Linked DNA regions of Homo sapiens: region 2 is linked to region 1. Evidence: fine-mapped expression QTL. A gene starts in region 1. The other region holds a variant in brackets. All regions are shown on one strand. Distances are between the middles of the regions.

Region 1 (10,283 bases):
CGTGGTATATTATAAATGATCTATGGCTTCATGTTCGGAGATCTAGTTTTGACATTGGCTCTGCTATCCAGCAACTGAGTGAACCTAAACATGCCACTAAAATCACTCGAGCTTCACATTAAAAATTGGAGAGGAGAGGGAAATAATGTTAATGCAGAACCCATTTTAGAAGGTTAGACTAAAAGTAAATGAGCTAACATGTATGAAAGTGCTTTGTAAAAAGCAACTCTCCAAATAAGTATCAGATGATGAAACAAGCAAGAGGAGGGTTTTGTAAGGTACTGTATTTGAGATTGTCATGAAGGAGAAAAAAAGAAAAACAACCTTGGCAATTACAAAATGAAAATAAAATATTTAATTTAGAAATACAAAATAATCTACAAACTTTTACTTCAAACTTCTTTAACTTTCTTCTACTTTGTGTGGCATGCATAGTGCTCTCATAGCAATGTGTTTAGAAGGTTGTAAGAGGAAGGCTGCTCAAAAAATACATTACGCAGATTTGGAAGGGGGTGGAGGTAAAGTTAGAATTTCTGAGTCATGAAAACATCAGAGCGCTTTCTGAAAGGTGTAACTTTATTTAAAACTGTGCTGCTGTGAATTCTATCATGCCACAGACACCTCTGAATCAACAGTCTCTGTTGGCAAATTGTTATGCTGACAAATTCTCACAAAGACTGAAAATTTCCATTTTGTAAACAAATAAGTGGGTTCCTAATGATCTAGCTTACCACCTAGAACTTTGAAAAGTGGAACCCTGGCTTGAGTGACCCTGAATAATCTATTTCTCACATTAGCAAAGCAGATTCAATTATTTATCACCCAAATCATAGAGCCACTGTATGAATGTAATATTAAGTCTGATACTCTTCTTCAAGCTAGGGAAGCAAGAACAGCACATCACTGACTTCACTGGGTGGAGTCCCTAAAATAGTAAGAGTGGCATGATGTGCTAATGTGGTCTTCTTCATGACACTAGGGGCTCTATTTCACTTCTATCCATAACAGAACAAATTTATTTCATGGAAGAATGATCCACAGGTTTCCTGACCAGGATATTTGATGTACACACATGGGAATGCACCTGCAGGCAAATACAGGTTGGGTGATGGGCACTCTTTCTGCTGGGTCACAGTCAGTCACAGGGACTCTAGTTTTGTGCCTTTTGATCACTACCTCCAGCACCTACGAGGAATGAACTGGACATGTGACATAGCCACGAAGCTGGGGGAAAAATCATCAGCCATCACAGTGAAGGGAAGTAGGTGAGGTACATGTGCATACCATAGACTTCGGAGCAAGCAAAGTGCACATATGTTACAAAAGGTAATGAATGCACATAACAAAAGATATACAGGAACAGTAGTGTCCAAGAAGGGATGTCAGACTTGGAGATAGGAGGTGCTGGGCCCAGACCCTCGATGTAGTGCGATTAAATGAGATGCCTATTAAAAGCCTAACAGCAGGTCAAGAATATGGGAAATCCTCATATATCAGTATTATTAGGAAGTAATTTTCTTTCCACTCATTTAATAAAATTACAATTTGGGCATCACCTACATATTAAAGGGGGTTTCATTTCATGATCACAAGGCTCCTTCTAGCTCAGTGAGTAGAATGAAGCTAGTGGTAATTTTACCTTTGGGCACCCTTGTTTTATAAAGAGCTAGCTCCCATTGTTTTATAAGGATAAGGCACCTGTCTAGCCTACTAATTGGTGGTAGCGTGAGAGGATGGAGAGGGGAATGCTTGTTTTTGATCACAGTCTTGGTCCCAGGCTCATTTTTTCATGTACTTTCACCTTCCCATTTCTAGATGCTTTAAATTCTCCAGCCCATGTCTGGGATGGTACAGATTTACCTGTGGTCTCATGAAGAAAGAGCAGGACCCAAAAGAAACACAGAATCTGGAAGTGTTTGTCATCAGATCAACAACCTAGAAGTTGGAAGAGTCTAGTCCTGTGTGATCATGAAGACAATGATCTTCTTTCCTATCTAGAAAGCAGAAATGATATCCAGCCTTCCACACCTGTGAACACAGGCCTGAGCACCCACTGTCCAGGTTAACAAAGATGTCCTCAAGGGCCAGACCTGAGCAAAATTAGAAAATAGAGGTGGTATGTTGCAAGAAGCACTGGAACAGAAGCTGTGATACCTGGATCCTGGCTCTGCCATTAACTCATTATGTGACCTTGAACAAGTCATTTCACTTGTTTTGAGTCTTGGTTTTGAGTCATTTGACTTGGTTTGAGTCATTTCATTTTTTGAGCCTTGGTTTTCTTGTGTAAAGTGTTTTAAACATAAGAAATGTTATTACATTTTACACATAAGAAAACCAAGCCTCAAAAAAGTTAAATGACTTGTTCAAGGTCACATAACTCATTAATGGTAGAGCCAGGATCCAGGTATCACGGCTCCTGTCATGGTTCAAAAACTCCCAGTATTTATGGACAAGAAGAAAACGTTTAGAAAATATTTTAATCGGATATAAAAAAAACAAAGTTGTCTTGAAAATCAGGGTCAGCCTTCCACAATCATGCCCTCTCCCTCTCATTTGTCTCTCTCTCTCTAATTCTTTCTTTCTGGTTCCTCAGGTTAAGAAATAAATCTAAATAATTTATAATAAAGTGTTATCACCATAGGTGACACCTCCTTTATTGGTATTTGTGTGCTAAGAAATCAATATCTGGTGTTAGGATGTCAGATGCTTGCAAGCTGAAGAATGTGGAAGAAGATTGTTTTTGCATGTACATGCGTGTGTGTGTGTGTGTGTGTGTGTGTGTGTGTGTATGTGTGTGTGTTTTGAGGGAGGTGAGTAATTGGTATCCTTCTTAGGTAGAATACTCCAAAGACAGCAGCCTCTCTAGCTGAGGCAAAGCTGGCTGTGCAAAGAGCCTTTTACAGCGTGGCCCACAGACAATGTGAAATTCTCTCTCCTCTGCAGCCTTGGTCTGCAGTGACACTGGCAGATGCTAAACTTCGGCCTGTCTAGAACAGTTAATTAGGTTATAGAGGCTGCCAAAAATCCCAAAGTCATCCAAAGAAAATGCAACACTTTGAGATCTGAAGCAAAGGTCAGAAGACACAAACACTAATCCTATTTCTGAGAAGAGAGAAACAAACAAAGAAGTAAGAGAAAAAAGAAAGGCAGGAAGGCAGGTCCCTGACAATCTGGCAACTTCTAATCACTCTTTTATAAACAATATTGAGATCAGGCATAAAGTGATCCTAGCTCTTTTCTCCAGTAATAGATACTGTATATTCATACACGATGATATGCAATAAATACCGCATATTCATGACCTTTCCACAGCTCTCAGTCCATACCTCTTGAGACAATAGAGGATCTTTCAGGGACCCCCTTCCTGCTGAGAACATTTCCACCCGAGAATGACTCTGGAGTGAAGAAATTGAATCAATTAAATAACTGGGTATGTTCAAGCCTTCTTTACGGGTTGCATCAAATTATCACAAAGTAAGAACTGCTGCTGTCTGCCCCCTGGTTCTCAGGAGTGGAGAGGCAGCCTTACAAACCTAGAGACCCAATTCTTCCAAAGAGGTTACCCCAGAACGTGTGTGTTGGGGCTGGGGTGGGGTAAAAAAATGAACAGCAGTGCATAGGACTTCACTGCCACCAGCAGGCCCCAGAGGAAGTGCAGGCCCAGAGGAGGCCGGGCTGCTTAGGTTAGGACCATCCAGGCAAGAAGAGAACACTTGCGTCTGAACTGCCTCACCCTGTGCCCGCCCACCCCTTCCCCAATCTCAGAGATTTGGAAAAACTGTTCTTCTTCCCTAAAAGACAGGTGTTCCTGCCCAGAAGCCCAGAATAAGTGATTTATTGACTAAACTGCAATTAAGGCTACAAACACTCCCTTCTCCCTGCGCCGTTGGCCCCCAACACAATTACACTTTATTTTGCGAGGTCTTCGTTCCTGTCCTGGCTTATGCAGTATTTCCATGGGTGCAGTGGAGTGGAAGGGAGACGGCGATTTTACATCTGGGTCCCTCTGCGTCTCATGTCACCTAGGACGTGGACTGGACCCCTGCGCCGTCCACCTTGAGCCCGGAACCCGAGGACGGCCCCGCGTCCTCTGTGGCCGCCCTGGATCAACTTCAGGTGGAGCTGACCTACGCGTTGCACTGACTTTGAAGAGCGGCTGAAGCGCACACAAGAAGCTGCTGCCCACAGCCAGCTCCGATTTCTCGCACCCCGGTCCCAATCCACGGCCACCTGCACTTTGCGTAACGTTGCGCTGGGGGGCGCTCCAGAGAACCCACACCCTCCCGCCCGGCCCAGGTGCGCACCCGGCCGCGCGGGGCTCCAGCAACCTGGCGGCCGACGGGCCCGGGAGCTGTCAGGCGAGCAGAACAGCCGGTGAGTGCGCCTTGATGGGAGCAGAAAGGCCCCTAGGAACCTTGGAGGCCTCGGAGGAACTACCCGCGGAGATCCGCTCCCAGAAAGGTTCCGGGACCACGCGGCGAGGAGCACGTGAACGGCGCAGCTTGGCTATAAAAACCCCGCTCAAGCGCGCGTGGGGAGCAACCGGAGCGGCAGGACGCTGCCACCTGCGCCAGGAGAGATAGGGATGAAGCGATCGTCCCTCCAGGACGCCAGAGACAATCTGGAGACTTGATGCTTTAAACTCTCCGGGTCTGGCTTGGGGTTGTGTGCGTCGAACTTTGAGGCTGGATTCCCTGCACTTGGGCAGAGACGCACAGACGCCCGAGCGTGTGGATTCCCGAAAATTCTCAGGGCTTGTGTGACCTTTAGGAGAGTTGGAGGGGGCGTAGTAGAAATCTCAGGCTAATTGATTTCTTGTCCTCCACCACGGAGGCAGACAGGAGCCCTCGGCTGTCCACAGAGGAGTCCAGGAGGCTCCTGCGCACCCCCGAGGCCCCCGCGCCCAAGCCCCGGCCGTCCTCTAAGCCGCAAGTTATTTCTGCGCCCGAGAGAGGCGGGCTCGGATAAAGTCGGGACGCCTTCTGGTACATAAAGTTTCATCTGCTCTCCTCGCTCGCACGGTCCCTGCCGCCTGGCGGCCCCCTCCTCCCACGGCGGGCGCGGGCGGGGAGATGGCCGCCGGCGCTTCCCGGCGCAAACGGGCGCTGCGCGCGTAGCCGCCGCCACGCTGACCTCCCGCTCCAGCTGGCTGCTGCTCGGAGCCCTAGCAGCGGGCGAAGGCGGAGGCCCAGAAGGGCAGGAGACCGCCGCGACAGGAGCCCGAGGGTCCGTATGGCTTCTCCTCGCCGGCGGGTGCTGTGCGCCACGGAGCTCGCCAAAGGCGCTTCGGGCTCGGAGCGGCTCTGAGCCGCGCCGCCTGCTGAGATCGACCGCCTGCTGAGCCGTTCCGTGGAGCTGCGGGCAGGAACCCGAGGAGCAGGAGGTGGCGGCGGCGGCAGTGGCTGTTCCTCCCAGAGGGCGATGTGGCCGGCCGGCGCGGGCACCAAGCTGCCCTGTCCCCGAGACTCTGCGCTCCGGCGGGCGGCTTTCTCTGGGAACCTCACGGCCCTGCCCTCTCACCTCGTGCCCGCCGGCCGCAGCGTCCGGGTCTTCATCAGCGCCAACCCTGAAGGTACGTCCCTCGCTCGGGTTTGCCCGTCCGTCCTTCTGTCCGTCAGCGCTGCGGGAGCTGGAGAGTGTGTGTCCGCCCCACAGCCCGGTGCGCCCTGCGCTCCCTTCCTCCAGCTAAAGCCGTGGCCGCCCTGAGCGCGTGGGAATTTAATTTGAATCACTTTTTTTCTCCCCTCGCTGGCCGGTTTTGCCTGCACACTTCTATTAGGACACCCATTCTCCACCCCGGGTTATTCCCCTGGGTCAATCCAAGAAACATCCAAGGCATTAGCCGGCCCTTCTGGAAGCTCCATTCTGCCGCCGCCGCCACCACCACCTCCTGTCCCCCGCCCTTTTTTTTTTTTTTAAAGCGGTTTCTTCTCCGAGATGACCGCAAACACAAACAGTAGCTCTCCTCCCCGAGGCGGGTTCCTGAGTGCGGGGCTACCTCCTTGGCCACTTTTTCCAGCTGAGGCGAGGTGAGTTCCTTGAGACTCTCCTCCTGCAGGTGCGATGGTGCCCTTTGCAGAGGCCAAGCAGACTTTTGTGAACCGGAGGTCGAGGGGGACACCCTCTGTGGGTCCCGGAACAGGCTTCGCGGTGGGGCGCGCAGGATGGGCTCATCTCAGTTGGGTCACAGGGCTTGGTCTTCTGTATCTAAAACTTGGCCTACTCAGTCATGTTCCTGCTTAAGGCACCTGGTAGGCACTCCATGAAAACTTGTTGATTTCTTGTTGCATTCACAACCACAGAGGTTGAACGCTGGGCGGTCAAATCCTGGCTCATCACTACCTTCCAGTCCTTAGTCCTCAACGTTAGATTTCATTCCCAGTAATTGGGGAGTTGGGGAAGGAAAGATGTATTTGACTGGGGCAGGATAAAACTGCAGGAATTGCTCTTTTCTAGGAAAAAAAATGTTTGGCTATGAGTCCATGGGAGACTGACAGAGGTGAAAGATTTGAGAATTAACGTTTTCTGCACTCTAACAAGCCTTGAGTCGAAAAGAGTCGAGGAGAAAAGTCCACATTCAAACGATCATTGGATATAATTCTCATTTGAAAACCCAAGGTTCTGGTTTCTTGAAAAAGCTTTCGGAGAAGACCAACAAAAGTAACTTTCTAGAAAATTACCGTTTCGGAAAAAATAGCACTAGCAGAAGTCTGAGGTAAAGCTTACATTATGAGAAGGAGTTGGGGAGAGAATCAAAACGATAACATGCACTAATTAGTATTAGAAAGACGATATACTCTTGGGGGACGGCACGACTGTCCTTTTATCAGTTTACAGTTCACTTTCAAAGAACTTAAGGAGGCTTTTAGGATGATATGGTACACTCAAAAAATCATTGTATCTCAAAGATGTCGTCTAGGATTTGTACCTATATCTGGATTTAAAGAAAAAAAATGGAGATATTCAGCCTATTTAAGGCAATCTGCGACTTAAGGGTTGAGGGTTACTTCTTTAAAATATTGCTAGAACATTTTTAAGTGAGAGAATTATGTTAGAAAATGTTTAAATGTTAGACATTTTTAGTTCTGAGCTTTTAAAAAAGTCATGTGAAATGTGTTTCAATCTGCTGATGTGAAGCTAGCTAAATCACTCTTTTTCTTTAAACTTGTGGCTTCTAAAATACAATAAGAATTCTGCTAATATGTGTAATTTTTTTCTTGCTGTCTAGATTTGCAATTTCTAAGATAAAAACGATACTGAATTTATACTATCAGCTTAATATTGAGTTAGTACTCAAGGTTAATGTCATTTTTTTAAGCCTGTCCATATGATTCTTCAAATTTCCTAGTTTCTTCGAATAAAAGCTTTAGCACAGATTAACCCTAGGAAAGCAAACAGGAGGGAGGAGCCAGTCATGCCCCTTGGCTACGGTTTGAGCTGGACAGCTTCCACAAGGATCTTAACAAACAAAACAGAAATGTGAAGCTTACCTGGGAAGTTTCAATAGGGGCAGGATCTCAGATTTTATCCAAATTGGAGAGCGGATGGCATATTAAATAAAAAAGACAGATGGGCATTTTTAATGATCTGAACGTGAAGCCTTAAAATCTTGGTAAATGCTCTGTCAGAGGCAGCACTTGACCGTGGGATCTTTATGGATGCAATTTAGAAAGCAAATGCCTGTGTTTTGGTATGATCCAATATTAGATTCTTGGCCAATACTGAAGAGCCTCTCTACTGTCAAATTAAGACAAAGAACATTATCTCATGCTTTCCTTTACTAGCGGAAATCCAATTTATGTTCTAAATAAAAGCTGCTTTGTGTTGAACTCACAGCAATACTCAGAACCCAGCAAGGATTTTGCTTGGAGTATTGTTTTAATAGGTAGTGCTTTACAAGGCTTGCATGGAATTTCCCCATCGGTAACGAAGATAATAGAATGAAATAGATAATAGAATGAATAGAATTTTTTTTTTTTTGAGACAGAGTCTCGCTCTTGTCACCCAGGCTGGAGTGCAGTGGCGCAATCTCGGCTCACTGCAACCTCCACCTCCCGGCTCCAAGCTATTCTCCTGCCTCAGCCTCCAGAGTAGCTGGGATTACAGGTGCCCACCACTACGCCCGGCTAACTTTTGTACTTTTAGTAGCAACGGGGTTTCGTCATGTTAGCCAGGCTGGTCTCAAACTCCTGACCTCAGGTGATCCACCTGCCTCAGCCTCCCAAAGTGCTGGGATTACAGGTGTGAGCCACCGCACCTAACCGTAGAATTTCTTTAGAATGAAAAAATTACTTTCCCATATATTAGTTCATTCAATATTTTCATTTTGTTTTCTATCCTCAAACAACCCTCTGAGGGTAGTGGACCAGGGGTGTTCCATCTATTCTACGGATGAGATTACTGAGGCTGTATCAAATTATACCACTTGCCAGAATTCATATAGCAGAGTGAAAGAGTAGAGCCTATAGGACCCTGACAACACTTGATATTCTCTTGTCCAGCCTAGGCTCTTGACAGATCTCTGTGAAATATCTCACACCACGTGGGCAAGACAATACAGATAGGGGGATAAGCACTGTCCAGCATCTTCTGGCTGTCAGACTTAAAGAGTATGAACAGCTGGCAGGGAACATGGCTATGCTGACCCACTTTGCTCCCACCAAGAGGTAGTCCGAGGCATTCAAGGAAATTTCAAAATGTGCTGGACTCTAATTGACACATTCTTGTCCAGAAGTGTATCTGCCTCTGACTAGTCCCCACCTCATGGAAGATGCTGGAGAAGGACCCATGTGGGGGAGGTGATAGCATTATCCCAGATTTTTTTAAGTGGATGGGCCTTGGACTTCATCTAGTTCCACCTCCCACCCAACATAGAAATTCCATCTGTGACATCTTCATCAATCCTTGGAAGTTTTCTAGTCATTTAGCTACTGTACTTCTGCCAGAACAGCACTTATAGCTCCTTGGAAAGATGATTTTAAAACCCACATAAAATCCTTTACTGTGATTAGCCTAAATAGTCCATGCATATGGAGATGAAAGGAACCTGCGAGATTCTCTCCCTGTTATTAGAGTGTAAAGGCCCTCCTCTTCTCTGTCTTGATTCTTTATCAGTTTATAGGAAGGTACAGTCTTAACACAGAAGGAAGACCAAAATATCACTTTTATTACTGATGAAAACAGTGCAGGTCCACAATCCATTATCTGTGATCATCTGGGCCAGATGTGATTTTGGAATCTCTTTTTTCAGATTTTGAGGAAAAATACTTACGCTCTAATATGTGGGTTCTGGGGTAACAACCCATGTCGGATATGAATAGGTGTATAAGGAAACATGAGTTCACTCTAAGTCAGTGTTATACAGAACTTTCTGTGATGCTGGAAATGTCTATCTGATATGGTAACACTAGCCACATAGGGCTATTGAGCATTTGAAATGTGGCTAGTATGACTAAGAATATGAATTTTTAATTTTATACAATTTTAATGGATTTGAATTTAAATAGACACATGTGGCTGTTGTATCAGATAGCAAAGCTCCAAGAGGAGTGATACAGATTTTAAGTAGCTTCATGTCAGTCAAGGTCAGGTTTGGCCATCAAGGACTCAGGTTACTTCAAGTTTTGCTACCAGATGGATTGGGGAAAACCTTTTATGTTCAAAGCTTTGGAGATTTTTGGAATTGCAGGTAAAAGATACAGACTTTTGTTGGAGAATATGGTTTTAACTCTGGGCAAGGGAGTTTCCCAATATTGAACCCAAGAATTAGACAGGCTTTACTCCCAGTCATTGTCAGCAGTGGGCAGAGCACAGACCACTCTCCCTGGCTCGTGGACAGAGTAGATCCCTTTAAACCTTAACACATGGAGGAGTGGAGGAGAATGGCAATTTTACGAGAAAGAAAGCAGAGGCTGGGCTATTGTGGTCAGATTTTCCTTCCAACTGCAGCCATAAGATTAAGATACTTCTCCCCTAAGGAGTAACTGACAGCATCCTACACTAGTGCATTGCCCTCTGCATGCAAAAAGATATCTGAAGTGGAGAAAAATATATTTTAACACTTAATGCATTTTTCTGTCCACTCAGATTTCTGTGCTGGTCATTATTGAGAGTCATGAACTCTTGTCCACAGTGTTGATCAGGTGTTCATACCATTACTACTTGGTTTTCTTTTGTCTGCATGGCTTTGCATCTTCCCAGACTCTTCATGCCTTTGGGGTCTCCATAGGAAGGTTTGTTCTCCGTTACAGTGGAAGTAACAGCAAGAGACATGCTTTCCCTTT
Region 2 (10,283 bases), 730 kb before region 1:
CAATAGGGCCATGAAAGAAGAATGTTAAAAGGTGTTTCATGTATAATGAAATCCCCCTGGAAATAATATCAGATGAACTAAGGGACTATGTAAATCAACTTTCACCTGATGTGCATTGCCTTATTTTTAATTACCTCCTTCTGTAGGATATCATGTGTATGGAATGTTTTCAGAAAGCTAAAGAAAGCAATGTCCTTGTATCTGAGAGTTGTGAAGGTTGTGGGTCCTGTGCAGAGTGGTGGTGAAAATACATCCCAAGTGGCTTTACAGATTTCCAGTTTTCCAACACTTTAATAAGATGTCAGACATCAAACAACTACATGGCCTTCACCCTAGATACCTTGAGAGGTGGAGAGTACAAGACCATGAGACATTTAGCATTCTAGGAGTCCTAGAAGCTTTGCAAGCATATCCAAAGTTACTAGATGTGGAAACCTCTCATTTGTAGTTGGCAGAGTCCATTTGGACAAATATGGCACATGTTCTGTAGGTTACCTACAGCATAACCTACTGCCGCTGTGGGTTATATTTTAGGGAAATTCTTGTAATGAATGATGAATCATTTCTGACTCCTCCTGAAAATAAACTGAAAATTTCTATGAGATCCAGAATAAAAACTTCATGTTTAGTAGGGGTAAATGTTCCTGAAATTCTTTATAGTTCAACCCTCAGACACCTCTATTTGGAGTAGTTAAAAGTTACTAAACCACTGCTGTTTAAAAGCTTTCTGTGCATCAGCTTAAGATCTTTCATCATGAGGAAATGTAAAGGACCCTTAAATTCCTGAAAATACATCTTTTTAGTAACATATTTAGCCTCTTCCTGAAACTAGGAACACCTAGAAATGGTTCCAGTTCCTTTCATTGTAGGTCTCATCTGATATGTAATTGGAGGCAGTTAGAGATCACATGATTTTAGAAATTTGTGCAGTATTGTTTGGGGAGTTTGCAAAAATGCTCTTAAAAAAGATCTTAGTTCTTCACCCTCACTGCCCTGTAGCTTACATAAAGTTTGAATCCAGCATTCCTGAACCAACAGTTATGTCTTTTTTTTTCATTAAGATGTCAGAGTTGAAGTTCTACAAGTGTGAAACCCACCATCTGGGATATGTAGATGAGTGAGCTGCAGAGCAGAATGGCTGATGCAGATCTGGTAAAGTATGGTTTGACTGATGTGGTAGAATATCCTGGTATCATCATCATTATAGGAATAAAGGTAATCAATGAAGTTTTTCCTATATCAAATATCTGTAATTTATAACTGTCTTATCTATATAAACCATACTATTGGATCTCAGACCACTCGAGATGGAATTGATTGGTTAATATCAGCCTAGTTCAGTGCCATATACTGAAGCCTGATTCCTTCGGCCAGTTTATTGAATTGTTGCCCAGTTGGAGTTTATTTGACTGGACTATATTGTTTCGTCAACCACTCAAGGGCTATACTTGAGTTTGCTTTAGTGCAGGCATAGGAATTTGGGTTTCCTTGGCCCTTGTTAGCAAATAGATCTCCAAGAGTAACAACGATAATAATGCCCAGAATAATAATGCCAACATCCCAAGACAACAATTGCCATCACAAAGATAACTCAAATGAGGACAATGACTTTCAGCAAGACCTGCAACCAGGACAGCAGCAGTTTGCACCTGACACGTTGAATGAGATGGAAGACAAGTGCAAGAAGATGGAGAGGTGGTGGCTGAGAGTGGAAGTAATACTCCAGCTAATAGGCAATTATTTTTGTGAATACTAATGAGAAATAAGCAGGACCCAGTAGTCTTCAGTATGGAGTAAAACCAACATCAGTTACTGTTCATTATTCAGAGTGATGATGAAAAAGACAACCTAGAACTTCAAGAAGTCTGGACTCTTAAGAAGGGTGCTTGTCAATTACTCTGAGCTTAAATTACAAATCAGAGAGTCAGTATAGTCCATAGCATTGTCAGACGTTGCCAAAACAAAGTCACACCATGCCATGAAGCCGAAGTAGATGGCAGATAACCCCATCAGTGTCAGTGATCCTGTGATAAAGGGTGACCATGTGCATGTCTTTGTATTAAAATCCAAAAATCTTGTGGAAATAATTATGACAAACTATGAAGTCACAGATCTAGTGCTGAAAAACTGTTTCAAGATGAGATTCATTCATATTATGAGGCACAAGTTACTGAAACATCTAAAAATAGAAAATGCACAAATTGTAAATTAATTTGACTATGTACAATACAAAAAACTAAATATGGATTACACATTAGACTAGATACTAAGGATGCCTCCTGAAAGAAATCATATCATATACCTATGCCCAATGTAGCAGGTAAACGCACTACCTTTGGAGCAGAAGTTATTCAGTGGTCTCTACCCCTGTCTATCATATCTGTATTATCCATGAATTCAGTAACCCTCCCAATATCTGGAACAAAGAGTGGATTTGCAGCTGAATAGACACAATAGAAAACATCAATCAAGCATTTGTTAAGTATGAACACTTCCATGAAGCCACTTAAAATGAAGATCACTTCCCTTTCACTGCTCCTGAGTACCCCTGGGAATGAAAAATGTATATTTAGAAAGTGCTGTGGTTGGAGCTTCCTGGCTGAGGTCACTATAGCTGCAGAGTCCAACAGCTTTGCCTATATGAATTTGAAAATAGTGAAGCGAACACCGTCCATGCTCCTTGAAGGAAACTATCTGTAGATTTTTGTATTAAAATAATAGAAGAAGAAATTCCTAAGACCCAGCCCATGAAAATGGTCATGAGCAAGTGGTGGCAATTTGCATCCAATATTGTGTTAATGCAGAGCCAATTGAAATGACTACATTTGATTGGTTCCTTCTGCTTTCCAGCAATTCTGGCAGAAAGCAGATGCCAGCCAGGGTTATTCAGCAGCCAGAGTACAGTAAATCCTCACTTACTGTCTTGATAAGTTCTTGGAAACTGTAACTTTAATCAAAATGAGGTGCAATGAAGCAAATTTTAACATAGACTAATTGATGTAAACAAGAGTTAAGTTCCTACAGCATATTTCTGGTCACAAAAACATCACCAACTTCTAAATGAAGAGCAAAACACTTCTAATATTAAACATTAAAGTAAGCGTGTGCTATACAGACATTTAAGACAGATTAATAAAAACAAGCAAGGTAATTATTGTACCCACTTACTCCAGTTTAGAGTTGCAGGTGGCTGGAGTCTCTCTCTATAGCTCAGGGTACAAAGTGGGAATTTACCCTGGACAAGATGCCATCTTATCACAGGGTGCACTCACACACACCCATATTCACTCAGACAGGGACCACTGAGACACACTAATTATTGTAACGTGTATAGCTTTGAGATGTAGGAGGAAACTAGAGTACTCAGAGAAAATCCTTCAGACATGGGAAGAATGTGCACACCACACAGACAGTGGCCTCAATGGTAATCGATTTATTTAGTTTTATCATCAATGTTATAAGGAATCAACACTCAACAAAACAGTGTTATTTGAGGATCTGCTGTGTTCCACAGGGACTCGAGTCATGCAGCTTGGAGGTCCTGCCTCAGTTTGTTATACAGAAGATGCATAAGGAGCATTGAAATTGTATGCAAAGGTTTACACATAGAGGAAATAAAATGACATTTCCTAAAGGAATAACCTTATACCATATGTTTATATAATTTAATTTAAAAATTGATTTTAATGAAGGCAGATAATTTGAAAGATTGCTCATATTTTCTGACAGTTGATAAAATGCCATTTTTTGACTGAGTCTGCATTTACTCTGTTCTTAATAAGCATTCCGTTAAATCTGTATATTTTTCTTATAGAGTGAAGCTCAGTAAATCTGATGAAGAGTGAAAGATAAATAAATCATTAAATTTGACAATCCCTATAGACATACAGAGGATTGGATATATTCTTCTTAGCAACTGTTTAGGCTTTTTGATGTTTTCAAAGATGATGTAACTGGAAGAAACAATGCTTGAGATATAGCAGAATATTTCATCATTTTCACCTTACAGCACAGAAGCAATTTGTCAATGACTCTATACTACGTACCCTGAAGCGTGACCTCCAATAACAATCAGTGTTTATTGCCAGAAAGCAGATTTGAAATATGGTTGAAAGCAGAAAAGCAGAGATGTTCAGGGTTGAATCTCTTGTGTCCTCTGAATGCAGAAACTTCGTTTTGAATATTCTTTAGCTGTAAGACCTACTTTCCATAGTCTTTCTGCTCCTATGATTCCAATTGTGCAACCTGCATTTTATAAGCATGCTTTAAAAATATGTGTTAAACATTTGGTTAGATATTCAATATGACTTTTATTTAATTATTAGAAGTATCTACCCATCTTTATGGACTGAGTTGCATCTCCCCAAAATTTGTATACTAAAGTCATAACTCCCATTATCTCTGAATGTGACCACATCTGGAGATAAGATCTTTAAATAAGTAAATTAAAATGAGGTTACTAGGAATATGACTAATGACCTAATATGAAAAATATCCTTATAAGAAGAGGAAATGTGGACACAGCATGTGTAGAGGTAAGACTATGAGAAGACACTAGGACAAGATGGCCATCTATAAGTCAAGGAGAAAGGCCACAGAAGAGAGCAACACTGCCCAAACCTTATGGACTTCTAGCATCCAGAATGAAAATAGAAATTTCTATTGTTTAAGCCATTCAGTTAATTATACTTCGGTATGGCAGCCCTAGCAAACAAATACATCATCTTTATTCTATTTTATCCAGTCCCAGAGATGGGTTTTTTCCTCCAGTCACGACCGTGATCTCATTTTCTCCTGTCTCCACCTAGAACATTGCTAATCAGTTATACCTTCATTCATCTGTCTTCACTTTCTCTCTACTTACATGTTCCTCTCAATTTGCTTAACTTTTCTGCCACCATCTTTTGACTCTATCTTTACTTTCTTTATTATCTCCACTTTTCAGAATAGTAATCTGTACTGAGTAAAACCACTCACATCACCCATCTACCAGTCAACCTGGTGGAGTCAGGATTATACAATAGCCCTCTATTTATAATAATTTATTCTTGTTAAGGTCTCCAATGATCTAATGGATAAATACAGTGGTTACTTTTTAGTCATTAATTTATTTTATCTTCTTGAAGTTTAGCTTGATCTCCTTAAAACTCTCCAATGGTTACCATATTTTTTTTTCACTGTTTAATCAAGTAATCTATTCTCTTCCGGAAGCCCATCACCTTTGAAGTGTTGGTATCATTTGTGTTTCTCTCTCTGGCCATCTTCTCTACCTTCTTAATACTGTATTCTTAGGCAGTCTCAGCCATTCTAATGACTTTATTGATGGCCTGATCACCAATATGTTAATGATCTAGAACCAGAAATACCATTTGACCCAGCAATCCCATTACTGAGTATACACCCAAAGGATTATAAATCATTCTACTATAAAGACACATGCACATGTATGTTTATTGCAGCACTATTCACAATAGCAAAGACTTGGAGCCAACCCAAATGCCCATCAATGATAGACTGGATAAAGAAAATGTGACACATACACACCATAGAATACTATGCAGCCATAAAAAAGGATGAGTTCATGTCCTTTGCAGGGACATGGATGGAGCTGGAAACCATCATTCTCAGCAGACTAACACAGGAACAGAAAACCAAACACCACATGTTCTCACTCATGAGTGAGAGTTGAACAACGAGTACGCATGGACACAGGGAAGGGAACATCACACTCCAGGGCCTGTAGCGGGGTGGGGGGCCAGGGGAGGGATAGCATTAGGAGAAA[T/C]ACCTAATGTAGATGATGGGTTGTTGGGTGCAGCAAGCCACCATGGCACATGTATACACATAAACCTGCACATTCTGCACATGTATCCCAATACTTAAAGTATAATAATAATAAAAAAAGAAATTTCAAGAGATCTGAATTTTTTTTTTTGCTGACTTGAGGAATTAGACATTCTGAACATTGTGGATAATAAATGCTTATCTTCTCAATTTCAGAACATGTTAGAAAAAGTAGAGAAGATTAAAAAACATTTTAAATAATTACACGGAGCAAACATGAGTTAATGTTTCTAATTTCATTTTATTGTTACTGCTATTACAGTAAGAAAGACCACAGTGTAGCAGTGCAACATAATTCTACTAAAAGGTCAAAGTCTTCCCTTTTAAAGTTTGTAATACCTGATATACACTAAATGTCTAGTACACTAAAAGATTTCAGGTATGTGTTTGCTCAAAATATATTTAGTAACAGCTTAATATAAATTAAATACTTTTCAGATTGATCCTATTTGTAGTATATTAATTGTATTTCTATAGCAGTTGGAGGAATTGTTCCTCTTTCTGAGGAAATTCTACAGTTAATAAACCATGAAACTGTGAGTTGTTTAAGTACTAATAAGCTCACTAAACAGGGTTTTATGAACAGCTGTTATCTATGTTGTGCCAGATGATACCAAGTAACTTTCTGAGGAATACATTTTTTTATGTAATGAGGCTTAATATATTAAATTACAATTCAGAATGTATAATTATTGTTTTTCCTTTCCCCTGGACAGTACCCTACATCACTACATAGCCCCCTGAGGCGGTTGTGGGGGGGGGCGGGGGTGGTATGAGGAAAACGTTTACACAGAAGGAAACATTTGAAGACAATTTTTTAATAAACAGAATAACATGAAGCATGGGCATTAGAATTAGGTGGAACAAGGTCCAATAATTATATCTAGAACATATTCACTCTTTCAACTAATGAAAGCCATTCTCATGAGGTTTCAGATGGAAATGAGGAACATTGAAAACTTAAGGAAAGGTCATTCTTGTTATGAATTGTCAAAGAACTTGGCTGAACTGTGTTTATGTTGTAATGTTTTATGAAAAGAATAACTTGTGAGAGACAGAATACTTGCCTGAAGAAACTTCTTTTTTTTTTTTTTTTTGGAGACAGTCTCTCTCTGTCAGCCGGGCTGGAGTGCAGTGGCACGATCTTGGCTCACTGCAACCTGCGCCTCCCAGGCTGAAGCAATACTCCTCCCTTAGCCTCCCAAGTAGCTGGGATTACAGGTGTGTGCCACCACACCCAGCTAGTAGAGACGGGGTTTCACCATGTTGGCCAGGCTGGTCTGGAACTCCTGACTTCAGGTAATCTGCCCACCTTGGCCTCCCAAAGTGCTGGGATTACAGGTGTGAGCCACCGCGCCTGGTCTGGTTGAAGAAATTTCTAAGCAAATTATTGAAGGTGCAGTTTGGCTTCTATTGAATGCTAACAGTAAACTATGAGAGAGAGAAAAGCACTTAAAGATGGATTTCTTAATCAAAAGGGAAAGGAGGAAAATATCACCTTTATCAATGAGAAAGGCTATATTGGAGAACGTTCCTTCACATCTGTGATAGAAGTGGATTCAACACCACATGTCAGTCTAAGGACAACTTTCCCCTCAGTCTCAGGCAGCATTAAACAATGGATGCCTCTTACGTGGAAGCTGGATGCTATGAAAGTTATGTTGGCTGGACGTGGTGGCTTAGGACTTTAATTCTAGTACTTTGAGAGGCCGAGGTGGGTGGATTGCCTGAGCTCAGGAGTTTGACACCAGCCTGGGCAACATGGTGAAACCCTGTTTCTACTAAAATACTAAAAATTAGCCAGGAGCGGTGGCACTCACCTGTCGTCCCAGCTACTGGGGAGGCTGGGGCAGGAGAATCGCTTGAACCCAGGAGGTGGAGGTTGCAGTGAGCCATGAGCCAAGATGGTGCCACTGCATTCTAGCCTGGGCAACAGAACAAGACCCCGTCTCAAAAAAAGAAAAAAAAAGTTATGTCATGGAGATGCTGACAACACCACTATGTTCAGGTAGGCAGGGTCCCCAAAGAAGAAGAGTATGAGCTACGCATCCACATTTCCTCTCCCAAACTTACTAATAAAATAAGCTACTTCTCAACTTCTAAAGCAAGGAAGCTACTCCTGTCTCTGAAGCATAGAGAGGCCAAGAATATTACTCCAGGTGGTGTACCTTCAGGTAGAAGTATCTCAGGGGAAAGGCAGCTCCCCTTCCTCCCAAAAGGTTCATACTTTGGTATATTCTGTTATTACAGCTACTAGGCAGCATTCTGGGTTTTTTCTGCCTATTTAAAATGCTATAGTAGTGAGCTCTTTCTATAACTTCCATAACTTCATTTGGAAAACCCTTTTCATCCCTTTTTGTTCATTGAAACTTGATCAATGTTTAATGTTCTGTCATCTAAATTGCATGAGACTCTCTCTCCTTTCTCCTGCCCCCAAGAATATCTGTTTCACCAAAACAAATGCCTATAGCTTAGTCAAGGGCATGGAGCAAGAAGTGGGTGAGCAGATTTTGGCATCAGGCAAACAGGACTGCAAATCCTGGCCCTGCCACTCATTAGCTATGAGAAATGAGGTAAAGAAATAAAAATTTTAAGTTCTGTTTTCCTCATCTGTAAAATAGAGTTGTATTAGTTTTCTTTGATCCTATAACAAATAGTCACAAATTTAGGGGCTTAAGACAATACAATTTATTGTCTTAGCAGTTCCAGATGTCAGAAATCTAAAATGAATCTCACATACAGAAATCAAGGAATGGACAGGGCTGTTTTTCTTCCAGAGGCTCTAGGGGATGATCTGTTTCCTTGCTTTTTCCAGCTTTTGGAGACCATCTGTCTTCCTTTACTACTGGCCCCTTCCTCCTTCAAAGTTCATTATTCCAACCTCCACTTTTATTATCATCTCCTTTTTTAAACTTTGACCTTCCCTCTTATAAGGACCCTTATGATTACCTTAGACCCATCTGGATAATTCAGGAAAATCTCCCCATTTTTTGATTCTTAACTTAATCACACTAACAATGTTCCTTTTTGCCATGGGGGGGAACACCATATTTACAGATTTTGGTGATGAGACTGTGGACTTCTTTAGGGGTTAGCCTAAAATGAGGATTATAATAGTATCATTTATATGCTTGTTACAAAGATTAAATGAGATAGTGCCTAAAAGAAGTGTATAATATGGTAATCTTTCAATTAATATTATTATTTTAACTTTCTTAATTTATTTTTAATTGATAAGTAAAATTGTATAAATTTATTGTGCACAACATATTGTTTTGAAATATGTATACATTGTGGAATGGCTAAATTGAGCTAATTAACTTACATTACTTTGCATACTTATTTTTTGGTAGTAAGAAGAATTAAAATCTACTCTCTTAGCAAAAACTTTGAAGACTACAGTATGTTGTTATTAACGGTAGTCACCACGTTTTACAATAGATCTCTTGAACTTCTTCCTCCTATCTAACTAAAATTTTGACCAATATCTCCCACCACCCTGACTCCAGTCCCTGGTAACTGACATTCTACTCTATACTTCCCTGAGTTCAACATTATCAGATTCCTTATATAAGTGAGATCATACAGTATGTGTCTTTCTGTGTCTGGTTTATTTCAGTCATTGCAATCTCCTCCAAGTTCATTCATGTTTCAAAAGTGACTGGGTTTCCTTCTTTTTTAAGGTAATATTACTATTTTTAAGAGTCTTGCTGCTGCTGTTGTTTGAAACCACAAAGAATAAATAATTTGAGTCACATAATTCAACATTTCATTTTATACTGTAATATACTGCGTGATTACATTTAATTTGCTTTAGTGTTGTCCAGCGAATATTAGTCATTCCTCTTCAGAAACTCTTTTCCAGAATTTTAGGGAATATCTGGACTTCCATAGTAGGAAGTGGCCATGGAAGGAATTCTACCAAGAGAGGAATTTCTATGTGAAATTTCCAGTCTCTTTTTCTGCTAAGGTGAAGGCACATAGTTTAGGCTCTGCCAATCAGATGCATCTGTGCTGAATGTTGAATCAGAAGATAATGAGGTCCAAATGGAAGCTCTGTGTGGGAACCATTTCGGTGAAGCTGATGGCAACCCATCTAGTTTCCAGAGAAACAGTGCAAGAGGTTCAGGCTGGAGAATCCACAGCGCATCACCCTCAGGACTCTAGCCACAAGCCACAGTGTCTGGCCCTGTGGTAGCAGTAGCATCTCCCCACAAACAATACTTCAGTGTGATCTGTGGCACAGTTTCTGGTTTCACAGCCCCCAACCTTGGCATCTCAGGAAATTAGGAAGGGTATCTGATATCCTGCTTAAAACAGATAAACATTGTTTCTTCAAAAACTACAAACTCAGACATTTTAATCTTTACTATTAATGTGATTTATCTCTGAGGGAAGAGATTCTACATTTTTCTTTGTATCTTCTGTATAGCCTAAAAGGT

Which allele goes with the higher level. Positions count from the first base shown, and alleles are read on the strand shown. Sizes are in standard deviations (SD) of each study's normalised expression.
As copies of T replace C in region 2, the expression in pituitary of the gene that starts at base 5,097 in region 1 goes down (moderate effect, 0.63 SD a copy in GTEx).

The links. PIP is the estimated chance that this variant, and not a neighbour inherited with it, causes the effect. A credible set is the group of variants that fine-mapping cannot tell apart.
Region 2: its variant is the best candidate, but not a certain one, in a credible set for the expression of NWD2 in pituitary (GTEx, PIP 0.62).

What each region holds. Positions count from the first base shown.
Region 1 is chr4:37,239,647-37,249,929 of GRCh38, forward strand. NWD2 (NACHT and WD repeat domain containing 2) reads left to right here and starts at 5,097. Exons shown (of 7, transcript NM_001144990.2): 1 at 5,097-5,572. The coding sequence starts at 5,422. It overlaps MIR4801 (microRNA 4801), which reads right to left and starts at 2,345; the gene lies at 2,264-2,345.
Region 2 is chr4:36,506,041-36,516,323 of GRCh38, forward strand. All of the region lies in intron 3 of LINC02505 (long intergenic non-protein coding RNA 2505), which reads right to left. It also overlaps the pseudogene LOC100130532. Among named protein-coding and RNA genes, the nearest start is that of MIR1255B1, 85 kb to the left of the region's middle. RefSeq lists an enhancer at 7,904-8,073. The variant T/C (reference allele first, on the strand shown) is at 5,783.